Linked DNA regions of Homo sapiens: region 2 is reported to be linked to region 1. Evidence: microRNA targets listed by miRTarBase, many of them from high-throughput screens and not tested one by one. Region 1 holds a microRNA gene; the other region holds the end of a gene's coding sequence.

Region 1 (5,521 bases):
CGAAACTCGCCAGTCTCCACTCCACTCCCAACCGTGGTGCCCCACGCGGGCCTGGGAGAGTCTGTGAGGCCGCCCACCGCTTGTCAGTAGAGTGCGCCCGCGAGCCGTAAGCACAGCCCGGCAACATGCGGTCTTCAGACAGGAAAGTGGCCGCGAATGGGACCGGGGTGCCCAGCGGCTGTGGGGACTCTGTCCTGCGGAAACCGCGGTGACCAGCACAAGCTCGGTCAACTGGATGGGAATCGGCCTGGGGGGCTGGCACCGCGCCCACCAGGGGGTTTGCGGCACTTCCCTCTGCCCCTCAGCACCCCACCCCTACTCTCCAGGAACGTGAGGTCTGAGCCGTGATGGTGGCAGGAAGGGGCCCTCTGTGCCATCCGAGTCCCCAGGGACCCGCAGCTGGCCCCCAGCCATGTGCAAAGTATGTGCAGGGCGCTGGCAGGCAGGGAGCAGCAGGCATGGTGTCCCCTGAGGGGAGACAGTGGTCTGGGAGGGAGAAGTCCTGGACCCTGAGGGAGGTGATGGGGCAATGCTCAGCCCTGTCTCCGGATGCCAAAGGAGGGGTGCGGGGAGGCCGTCTTTGGAGAATTCCAGGATGGGTGCTGGGTGAGAGAGACGTGTGCTGGAACTGTCCAGGGCGGAGGTGGGCCCTGCGGGGGCCCTCGGGAGGGCCCTGCTCTGATTGGCCGGCAGGGCAGGGGCGGGAATTCTGGGCGGGGCCACCCCAGTTAGAAAAAGCCCGGGCTAGGACCGAGGAGCAGGGTGAGGGAGGGGGTGGGATGGGTGGGGGGTAACGGGGGAAACTGGGGAAGTGGGGAACCGAGGGGCAACCAGGGGAAGATGGGGTGCTGGAGGAGAGCTTGTGGGAGCCAAGGAGCACCTTGGACATCTGGAGTCTGGCAGGAGTGATGACGGGTGGAGGGGCTAGCTCGAGGCAGGGCTGGTGGGGCCTGAGGCCAGTGAGGAGTGTGGAGTAGGCGCCCAGGCATCGTGCAGACAGGGCGACATCAGCTGGGGACGATGGGCCTGAGCTAGGGCTGGAAAGAAGGGGGAGCCAGGCATTCATCCCGGTCACTTTTGGTTACAGGACGTGGCAGCTGGTTGGACGAGGGGAGCTGGTGGGCAGGGTTTGATCCCAGGGCCTGGGCAACGGAGGTGTAGCTGGCAGCAGCGGGCAGGTGAGGACCCCATCTGCCGGGCAGGTGAGTCCCTTCCCTCCCCAGGCCTCGCTTCCCCAGCCTTCTGAAAGAAGGAGGTTTAGGGGATCGAGGGCTGGCGGGGAGAAGCAGACACCCTCCCAGCAGAGGGGCAGGATGGGGGCAGGAGAGTTAGCAAAGGTGACATCTTCTCGGGGGGAGCCGAGACTGCGCAAGGCTGGGGGGTTATGGGCCCGTTCCAGGCAGAAAGAGCAAGAGGGCAGGGAGGGAGCACAGGGGTGGCCAGCGTAGGGTCCAGCACGTGGGGTGGTACCCCAGGCCTGGGTCAGACAGGGACATGGCAGGGGACACAGGACAGAGGGGTCCCCAGCTGCCACCTCACCCACCGCAATTCATTTAGTAGCAGGCACAGGGGCAGCTCCGGCACGGCTTTCTCAGGCCTATGCCGGAGCCTCGAGGGCTGGAGAGCGGGAAGACAGGCAGTGCTCGGGGAGTTGCAGCAGGACGTCACCAGGAGGGCGAAGCGGCCACGGGAGGGGGGCCCCGGGACATTGCGCAGCAAGGAGGCTGCAGGGGCTCGGCCTGCGGGCGCCGGTCCCACGAGGCACTGCGGCCCAGGGTCTGGTGCGGAGAGGGCCCACAGTGGACTTGGTGACGCTGTATGCCCTCACCGCTCAGCCCCTGGGGCTGGCTTGGCAGACAGTACAGCATCCAGGGGAGTCAAGGGCATGGGGCGAGACCAGACTAGGCGAGGCGGGCGGGGCGGAGTGAATGAGCTCTCAGGAGGGAGGATGGTGCAGGCAGGGGTGAGGAGCGCAGCGGGCGGCGAGCGGGAGGCACTGGCCTCCAGAGCCCGTGGCCAAGGCGGGCCTCGCGGGCGGCGACGGAGCCGGGATCGGTGCCTCAGCGTTCGGGCTGGAGACGAGGGTGAGTTTTTCCCCCTCTGCCACCCTCAGCCCCCACCCGCCCCTCCCCACACAACCAACACGTTCTCCCCACACGACTCTCTCGTTCTCCCCACAGCCAGGTCTCCAGCTGGGGTGGACGTGCCCACCAGCTGCCGAAGGCCAAGACGCCAGGTCCGGTGGACGTGACAAGCAGGACATGACATGGTCCGGTGTGACGGCGAGGACAGAGGAGGCGCGTCCGGCCTTCCTGGTGAGCGTGTCTGCCCTCCCTGCGTCAGGACGCGGCCCTGCCCAGACCGCCCCGCCGGGCCACCATCTCACTGCCCCGACCTCTGTCTTCTACAGAACACCTTAGGCTGGTGGGGCTGCGGCAAGAAGCGGGTCTGTTTCTTTACTTCCTCCACGGAGTCGGCACACTATGGCTGCCCTCTGGGCTCCCAGAACCCACAACATGAAAGGTGAGGGGCTTCCTGCCACACTTGGGGTGGGGGGCACGCGAGAGGAGCTGAGTGGGACCTCACTCCTTCCCCATCCACAGAAATGGTGCTACCCAGCTCAAGCCTGGGCCTTTGAATCCGGACACAAAACCCTCTAGCTTGGAAATGAATATGCTGCACTTTACAACCACTGCACTACCTGACTCAGGAATCGGCTCTGGAAGGTGAGCACCAGCGCTCCTTCCGGAAGCCTCCAGGCCCCCGAGCACCCTGCCCCCATCCCACCCACGTGTCGCTATCTCTAGGTGAAGCTAGAGGAACCAGACCTCATCAGCCCAACATCAAAGACACCATCGGAACAGCAGCGCCCGCAGCACCCACCCCGCACCGGCGACTCCATCTTCATGGCCACCCCCTGCGGCGGACGGTTGACCACCAGCCACCACATCATCCCAGAGCTGAGCTCCTCCAGCGGGATGACGCCGTCCCCACCACCTCCCTCTTCTTCTTTTTCATCCTTCTGTCTCTTTGTTTCTGAGCTTTCCTGTCTTTCCTTTTTTCTGAGAGATTCAAAGCCTCCACGACTCTGTTTCCCCCGTCCCTTCTGAATTTAATTTGCACTAAGTCATTTGCACTGGTTGGAGTTGTGGAGACGGCCTTGAGTCTCAGTACGAGTGTGCGTGAGTGTGAGCCACCTTGGCAAGTGCCTGTGCAGGGCCCGGCCGCCCTCCATCTGGGCCGGGTGACTGGGCGCCGGCTGTGTGCCCGAGGCCTCACCCTGCCCTCGCCTAGTCTGGAAGCTCCGACCGACATCACGGAGCAGCCTTCAAGCATTCCATTACGCCCCATCTCGCTCTGTGCCCCTCCCCACCAGGGCTTCAGCAGGAGCCCTGGACTCATCATCAATAAACACTGTTACAGCAATTTGTCTCGAGGACTCTGGAATCCGGGCTGTGGGCATGATGTGGGGGAGGCCAGCCTTGGGCAGAGGGGGGCTGGGGGGCATGGGGAGGAGTACATGAAAAGGGGGATGGGGGTTCCAGGGTGGGGGATTCTGGGATGGGTGCAGCGCAGCACACACCAGGGGTGGGGTGAGCACAGGGTGTGTGGACCTCAGGGGTGCAGGGCAGGCGGTCAGCATGCAGTGATGGCAGTGGAGGGGCTGTGGGACCAGGGGCTTCACAGACTGGGCGGGGGCTGGGCTTGCGGAGGGGGCCTGCGCTCTGAGGCAGGGGTCGGGGACCACCAAACCATCCCCGAGCGAGTGCCTCCTGTCGCCCCAAAGTCCCATCAGAATGACGCCTTGGTGCTGGCCCCAGACCCCTGAAGCCCGGGCTAGGTGACTGGGGTAGAGCTGGCCATGGCCGCTCTGGGAGGCCCACAAGGTGCTCTGGGCGACCCCACCCCGACAGGGGCACGAACCCCGCGCCAGTCCCGTTCCTGCTCCCCTTTTGCTGTGGGTGGGAGCCGGGGCCACGCCGGAGGGACGGCCCCGCACAAGGAGCCAGGGGGTTGTGGGGGAGCCGGTGGGCTTCTCAGTGGGCAGGTGGCCTTGGGGCAGAGGTCCTAAGGAGGCCAGGGGACCAGGAGGAGGGAGGAAGAAGTTGAGGGTGGCCACAGGGAGGAGGTGAGGAGGAGCGGGAGGGCCCAGGGTGAGGGGCTCCCGGGCTCCCTCCCCGGGGTCTTGCTGCTGGAGCTCCAAGAACCCCGGTATGCAGGGGTTCGCTCCCCAGGTGCCAAGGCAGCCCACTCATGGGTTCCGGGTCAGCTTCCCCGCAGAGGCCAGTGGCCGGCAGCTCCCTCAGCCAGGCCTCCCAGCTCCCGGCCCCTCGCTGTGCAGGCGCTGGGAACACAAGGGGCAGCCCCTGGAAATAAGGGTGGGGTCCCGGCCTCCCCATTCCTTCCCCCCTCCCCCCTGCCTTCCACCCCCATTCCCAGTGCACAGAGCTGTCAGGAAAATTCCTCCCCGACTGACAAAGAACAGACAGGAAGGCGGTTAGGGACGCCCCTCCCCTACCGGCCCAGCCGCCCTTGGGGTCTTGGTGTCCAGGGCGGAAGAGCAGGGTGGTTCCCCACGTCCCTTGGGTCTGGCCTCCCCTCTGCACCCTCTCTTGCCCCCTCCCCATCCAGCTGTGGGCCCTGGGGACTGTCAGAGACCGAGGGGTTTCCAGGGACACACTTGTGTGCTAAAACCTGGGCGGGTGGTCACCCCCCAGGATGCATGTAGACATCCGGTGAGGGAGTCTCTTGAAGTCTCTGGGATGGTGCCCCTGGGACTGGCTGCCATCTCATGGAGGAGGTCAGAGGTCGCTGGGGCCAGCCCAGGGTGAGGCCGCATTCATCTTCCTGACCCTACAGGCCAATTTGACTTACCCAAGTGGGTTTTGGCCGGCAGGATGAAGTAACCCATCCATTACATGTCAAGAGTTAGGTCTATAAACGGCCTTTATTATAAACATCCAACTCTGCAGGAGGTTTACAAAGCAGGGCTCAGGAGATAAAAGCCGGCTTCCCCAGGTGGCGGCTGCAGGGTGCGGCAGGCAGCCCCAGGGGTGCCCAGGGTGGCGGGGCAGGGGAACCGTAGGGAGGGGGAGAGGGGCACCCAGAAAACCTCTCCTGGAGAACATGGAAGACTCTGCCCACTTCAAATCCCTGCCTGGGGAAGGACACATGGGAATGGGGCCGGGGGAAAAGGCGGGCCACCTCGGGCCTTCGTCACCTGTGTCAGCTCCTAGGGATTGTCTCCTCCTGGTCACTTGGAGAGAACAGGCGTGCTGGACACGTCCACATCTCTGGGCCCGGGGTGTATGAATGACACGCTTGCTCTGGAGTTTCCACCTGGGAGCTGTATGGGGACAGGGCTGTTCCTCCTCACACCCGCTGGGGAAGGGACACAGGCCTCTTGGTGGCCCCCACCATCTCCCAGCACTGCCCATGGCTGTGCCCACGCTGGCTGCCCCCTGAGAGCAGGACGTGTACTCAGGGGCAGCGCCTACCTCTGGGCAGCCCAGGTTTCTCT
Region 2 (5,000 bases), not on the chromosome of region 1:
GAGACTTTCTTCTGGATAGCACTTATTTAATAAAGTGAGGAATCCCAAAAGTCACATCCCATATTCCTATCCTAATATCCACAATGAAATCCCAGTTTTTCAATAGGTCTGCGTTGGATCTTTCATACACTCTTCTTAAAACAAAGCTGTCAACCCCACATCACAATGCTTCTATATATAATGACTTTACATTAAAAGAATAGAAGCCAGCTATTTTTAGAAAATGCAGGTGCCATGTAAGCCCCTTTCTGCAAGAATGATCTTAGCTCAGTTTCCTTGGAATAACTGTAGACTTGAAACTGAAAACTTTATTAATGCCATTGTCTCCTTGTATCAGCAGGTTCCAGAGAGATTCCTGGAAGTTGCTCAGATCACATTACGGGAGTTTTTCAATGCCATTATCGCAGGCAAAGATGTTGATCCTTCCTGGAAGAAGGCCATATACAAGGTCATCTGCAAGCTGGATAGTGAAGTCCCTGAGATTTTCAAATCCCCGAACTGCCTACAAGAGCTGCTTCATGAGTAGAAATTTCAACAACTCTTTTTGAATGTATGAAGAGTAGCAGTCCCCTTTGGATGTCCAAGTTATATGTGTCTAGATTTTGATTTCATATATATGTGTATGGGAGGCATGGATATGTTATGAAATCAGCTGGTAATTCCTCCTCATCACGTTTCTCTCATTTTCTTTTGTTTTCCATTGCAAGGGGATGGTTGTTTTCTTTCTGCCTTTAGTTTGCTTTTGCCCAAGGCCCTTAACATTTGGACACTTAAAATAGGGTTAATTTTCAGGGAAAAAGAATGTTGGCGTGTGTAAAGTCTCTATTAGCAATGAAGGGAATTTGTTAACGATGCATCCACTTGATTGATGACTTATTGCAAATGGCGGTTGGCTGAGGAAAACCCATGACACAGCACAACTCTACAGACAGTGATGTGTCTCTTGTTTCTACTGCTAAGAAGGTCTGAAAATTTAATGAAACCACTTCATACATTTAAGTATTTTGTTTGGTTTGAACTCAATCAGTAGCTTTTCCTTACATGTTTAAAAATAATTCCAATGACAGATGAGCAGCTCACTTTTCCAAAGTACCCCAAAAGGCCAAATTAAAAAAGAAAAATAATCACTCTCAAGCCTTGTCTAAGAAAAGAGGCAAACTCTGAAAGTCGTACCAGTTTCTTCTGGAGGCAAAGCAATTTTGCACAAAACCAGCTCTCTCAAGATGAGACTAGAAATTCATACCTGGTCTTGTAGCCACCTCTCTAAACTTGAAAATAGGTTCTTCTTCATAAGTGAGCTTACATCATTCTTCATAAAGAAAAATCCTATAACTTGTTATCATTTTTGCTTCAGATACTAAAAGGCACTAAGTTTCCAATTTACGCTGCTCAACTTTGTTTATATGCTTAAAAGGATTCTGTTTACTTAACAATTTTTTCCCCTAAAATACTATTTTCTGAATACTTCCTTCCAGTAAGGAATAAAGGAAAGCCCAACTTGGCCATAAAATTCTTGCCTACACTAGAAGTTTGTTGACAGCCATTAGCTGACTTGATCGTCATCTCCTAAGAGGAACACATATATTTTCACAAGCAATTCCACACTATCCTGATGGGTATGCAAAGTGGTGACAGTCTAACTCAGTGTTTCTTCATTTTAGGTATAACATTTTAAAGCAATTGATAATGCCTCTTCCAATTCAGAAGCTAGTATTGACCAAAATGTGAGAAGAGTGTATAGCATAGGAAAATTTGGGGTTAACCCAAAAGACACAATTCCAGCACACATAAGAAAGCTAGCTGCTATTTTATGCTTTCTTCCATGGTTCTCCTCTTTTTTCCCTTTTATTTTTCCCTGTTTTTCAATGATGTACAGTGTTCCCTACTTGCATTGAAAAAACTCGTATGGCATTCACACTTTTTTTCTTAGGTGGGTTTTTGTGTCCAGATGCAGTAAGAATTCATTGTTCATCCTAAAACTGTTTTCCAGACCCTTCCTTCCCCTTAGGTAATTTGATATACACCTCCTAAAATGACACAGTAACAAATCTGGTATTTAGAACATATAGAACATAAATGCCATTTTTTAATTCAACTTTAATAAGAATTACATTTGACTTTGGAGAATACAGGTCTTGACCCATGTGACTGACTAGCTGACCCGATCGCTGTAATTTAACGTCATTTATAAATTCTGCTGATGGACAGGAATGTATGAACTCAATTATTGTCAGCACAAAGCCTTAAAACCTGCTGACTTTAAATTAAATGGTGCAGTCCTATGATGCCCTGCACCATCCAGGGGACTAACAGGGCCTCGCAGTGTAGACAGAGGGTGCAGCCACACGGGCGGGGGCACCAGCCACCTCACTCTGCACCCGCGGCCTCACACATCTCCCAGCTCACACTCTACTAATGCACAGAGTCATTAGATCCAATTTGTTATTTTTCTCACTTGCTTTAAAAAAAAGCAGTTTGGATAATCATGACATTGGAATAAAGTGGGAAGGAAAAATTCCATCAGCACAAAATAGGGAAGTAATCCCAACTTGTAGTCACAGTTTTCTGACTGGCTTTGTTTTAAAAGAGGATGGCAGTCCTTGTTCGTGTCAGTGTGCCACTGGGTTTTTGCTGTTCCGTGTAATTCATATCAACTTTGTGTTGCCATTTGCAAGGTAAAAGGCAAAGCTGTAGTGTATTCACCTATGTAGACAGATTGCTAGATATCTTTTTGATCTGGGGCGAGTTCAATATTGATTCCAGACTTATTTGGATTTTTTTAGTATTATTTTCCCCTCCCTTTCTAATTTAAATAGACAAATTAAGCAAAAGTGTGTGTTCACAACCAAATGTTGATGCCCTTATCTACTGATAATATCCTCTCAATGTTCACTGAGGCATAGAAATTATTTCAGAGTAGAAATTGCAGCATGAGGATAAACTCACCTCTTTGTTCTGAAAATAGAACTTTATCACTATGCTTTCCGGTGGTTTTCCCTTTTACAATCGAAATCTTGTGCCTCCCAAGTGCATTGGAAAATGACAAAAGCCTGTCTCTCCAAATTCCTATTTAACAGTTTGATTTTTTTTTTTTAATCACCATCTTTCAAATCTTAGCTCAACTCTCACCAAGTGAAAATTGGCTACTTGGGAGAAAGTTAACTTTCTATGGTGGGATGGTGAAGGATGAGGGACAGTTTACATAGGAAAAGAAAAAAAAAAGTCTAAAGTCCATGTTGAAAAACCACACTACCACTTATTTTCTGCTAACCCTAAATTATTTTTGCGTATACGCTTGAGGTTATAGTCTGTGCCTAGACCTAAAATGCACCAGCGGGGGGGATTTTAAAAAATCCTTCAAAATACCAGTTTTTTCCCAACAAGTACAATTGTTCTTGTGCCTTCTGTGGCTTTCGATTTCATCTTTTTGACTTTATTTCCAATTACTACAGCTGCAATAAACACTAGATTTTTTTTCTGGCTGTTTGACATAACGTTGATAGCTATGCATATTTTGTGTCTTTTTAAAACAAAGCGGGAGAATACGTTTTTGAAGAAGAGAATTTTTAGAACAGTTTGATACCGCAAATTATTTTTTCCTCAATTGTTTGAGCAGCATTCGAGTTTTGAAAATTCTTGTAGAAGCCAATTTTTTGTAACTGTGGTGCAAATCTTGTGTTTTCTTAGCCTAATGAAAAGTAGTATAGAAGCAATATTTCATACCATGTGCTATATATGTGTGCGCAGATGTGTGAACATAAAATCACATACACACATATACACACATGTAAAAATATACATATATATATATGCGTGTGAAGTGGAAAGCTTACCTTTTCCTATCTAGATTTAAGAACCTATTTTAGACATTTGTTATGTTTTGTGAAAAGAATGTTCTATTTGCAACAAAACATTTAATTCTTACTGTATCTCTGGCTGTTTAATGAGGACGTTTCACATTAAATGGTAAAACACATGGAAGATGTTAGAATGTAGTAATTATTTAAGTAAACGTTCACCCACATATTCCTGAAGTTTGCTTTGTGCCTCCGAGTATTATTTAATTAAAGAAGTGTTTTATGTTTGCAGAATCTTTGTCACTGTACTAGGGATGTGGGTGAATATCATTTAAAAAAATTTAAAACAACAAAAAAAAAGCAAAACAGAAACACTAAAGCAAGAGGGGAACTTTTATAAAGCAATGTAAATATTTAACCTCATGGCTGTCATTATGTAAGACATGAGATTTTAATAAATAACTACATTCTCACGACATCTGTTGAATTTACTAGGAACACTACAGTGACTGTATAGACAGTTGAAAGCATTCTTGAAAATCCTGCTCTCTCCTTTTAAAAGTTAACAATCTCTTTTATCAGATGTCAAGGGCAAGGGTAATGCAGTTTCTGTAAATTTATGAAATTTCTTTTTCTATGTACATGAAGACATTTAGTAAGTAACACCCCCCCTTCCCATGCGCACATGTGCGCATACACACACACACACACACACACACACACACAAACACACACACTGTCATAAAGCTAATGATTTGGGGACTTTAAAAAATAGGATGTCCTCCAGGAACAATCATAAATTTATGAAAGAAAGAGTAGTTTACAGACTCCCCTGAAAGAAGCAGTGTATATGTGAAGACAGTGCAAAAATCTCTTTGCCATGTATATTATAGCGTATTCATTGGTGTGAATAGTACAAATGTTTCCTTCTGGTACAAACTCTGTGTTTGCAAATTTACAAGAAGCATTGTTTTCAAAAAGCTCCCCTTAAAAAATGTAACTGGTTTATATGAGTAAGCAGTTACCGTATTGCACTTAAATGTTATGTTGAAGGAAATGCAGTTTTGTTTTCTGTAGATCTGTTGGTTGTAAACCATCTATAAAACTAAAGCTAAAATGCTCATATTCAGAGCTGGGATCAAAACTGGTATTTAACCTTTGCATCTTCTTATAATTATCCTTCTAAGAATATAACAGAATGTG

What was found. Region 1 holds the annotated microRNA hsa-miR-675-3p (CUGUAUGCCCUCACCGCUCA, at 1,815-1,834, shown strand). A microRNA usually pairs through its seed, bases 2 to 8, with sites in the 3' UTR of a target mRNA and lowers its output. Matches are read on the target gene's strand: a 7mer-m8 pairs with bases 2 to 8, a 7mer-A1 pairs with bases 2 to 7 and ends in A, and an 8mer does both.
Region 2: the mRNA of PROX1 is a reported target of hsa-miR-675-3p. Seed matches in the 3' UTR shown: 7mer-m8 at 4,489-4,495.

What each region holds. Positions count from the first base shown.
Region 1 is chr11:1,993,081-1,998,601 of GRCh38, reverse strand. MIR675 (microRNA 675) reads left to right here and starts at 1,771; the gene lies at 1,771-1,843. It overlaps LINC01219 (long intergenic non-protein coding RNA 1219), which reads right to left. Exons shown (of 3, transcript NR_126400.1): 3 at 5,133-5,347. It overlaps H19 (H19 imprinted maternally expressed transcript), which reads left to right and starts at 760. Exons shown (of 5, transcript NR_002196.3): 1 at 760-2,084; 2 at 2,181-2,315; 3 at 2,411-2,523; 4 at 2,604-2,726; 5 at 2,808-3,426. It also overlaps a transcript of MRPL23 not described here. RefSeq lists enhancers at 1-400, 401-1,248.
Region 2 is chr1:214,035,309-214,040,308 of GRCh38, forward strand. PROX1 (prospero homeobox 1) reads left to right here. Exons shown (of 5, transcript NM_001270616.2): 5 at 341-5,000. The coding sequence ends at 526. Among named protein-coding and RNA genes, the nearest start is that of PROX1, 50 kb to the left of the region's middle.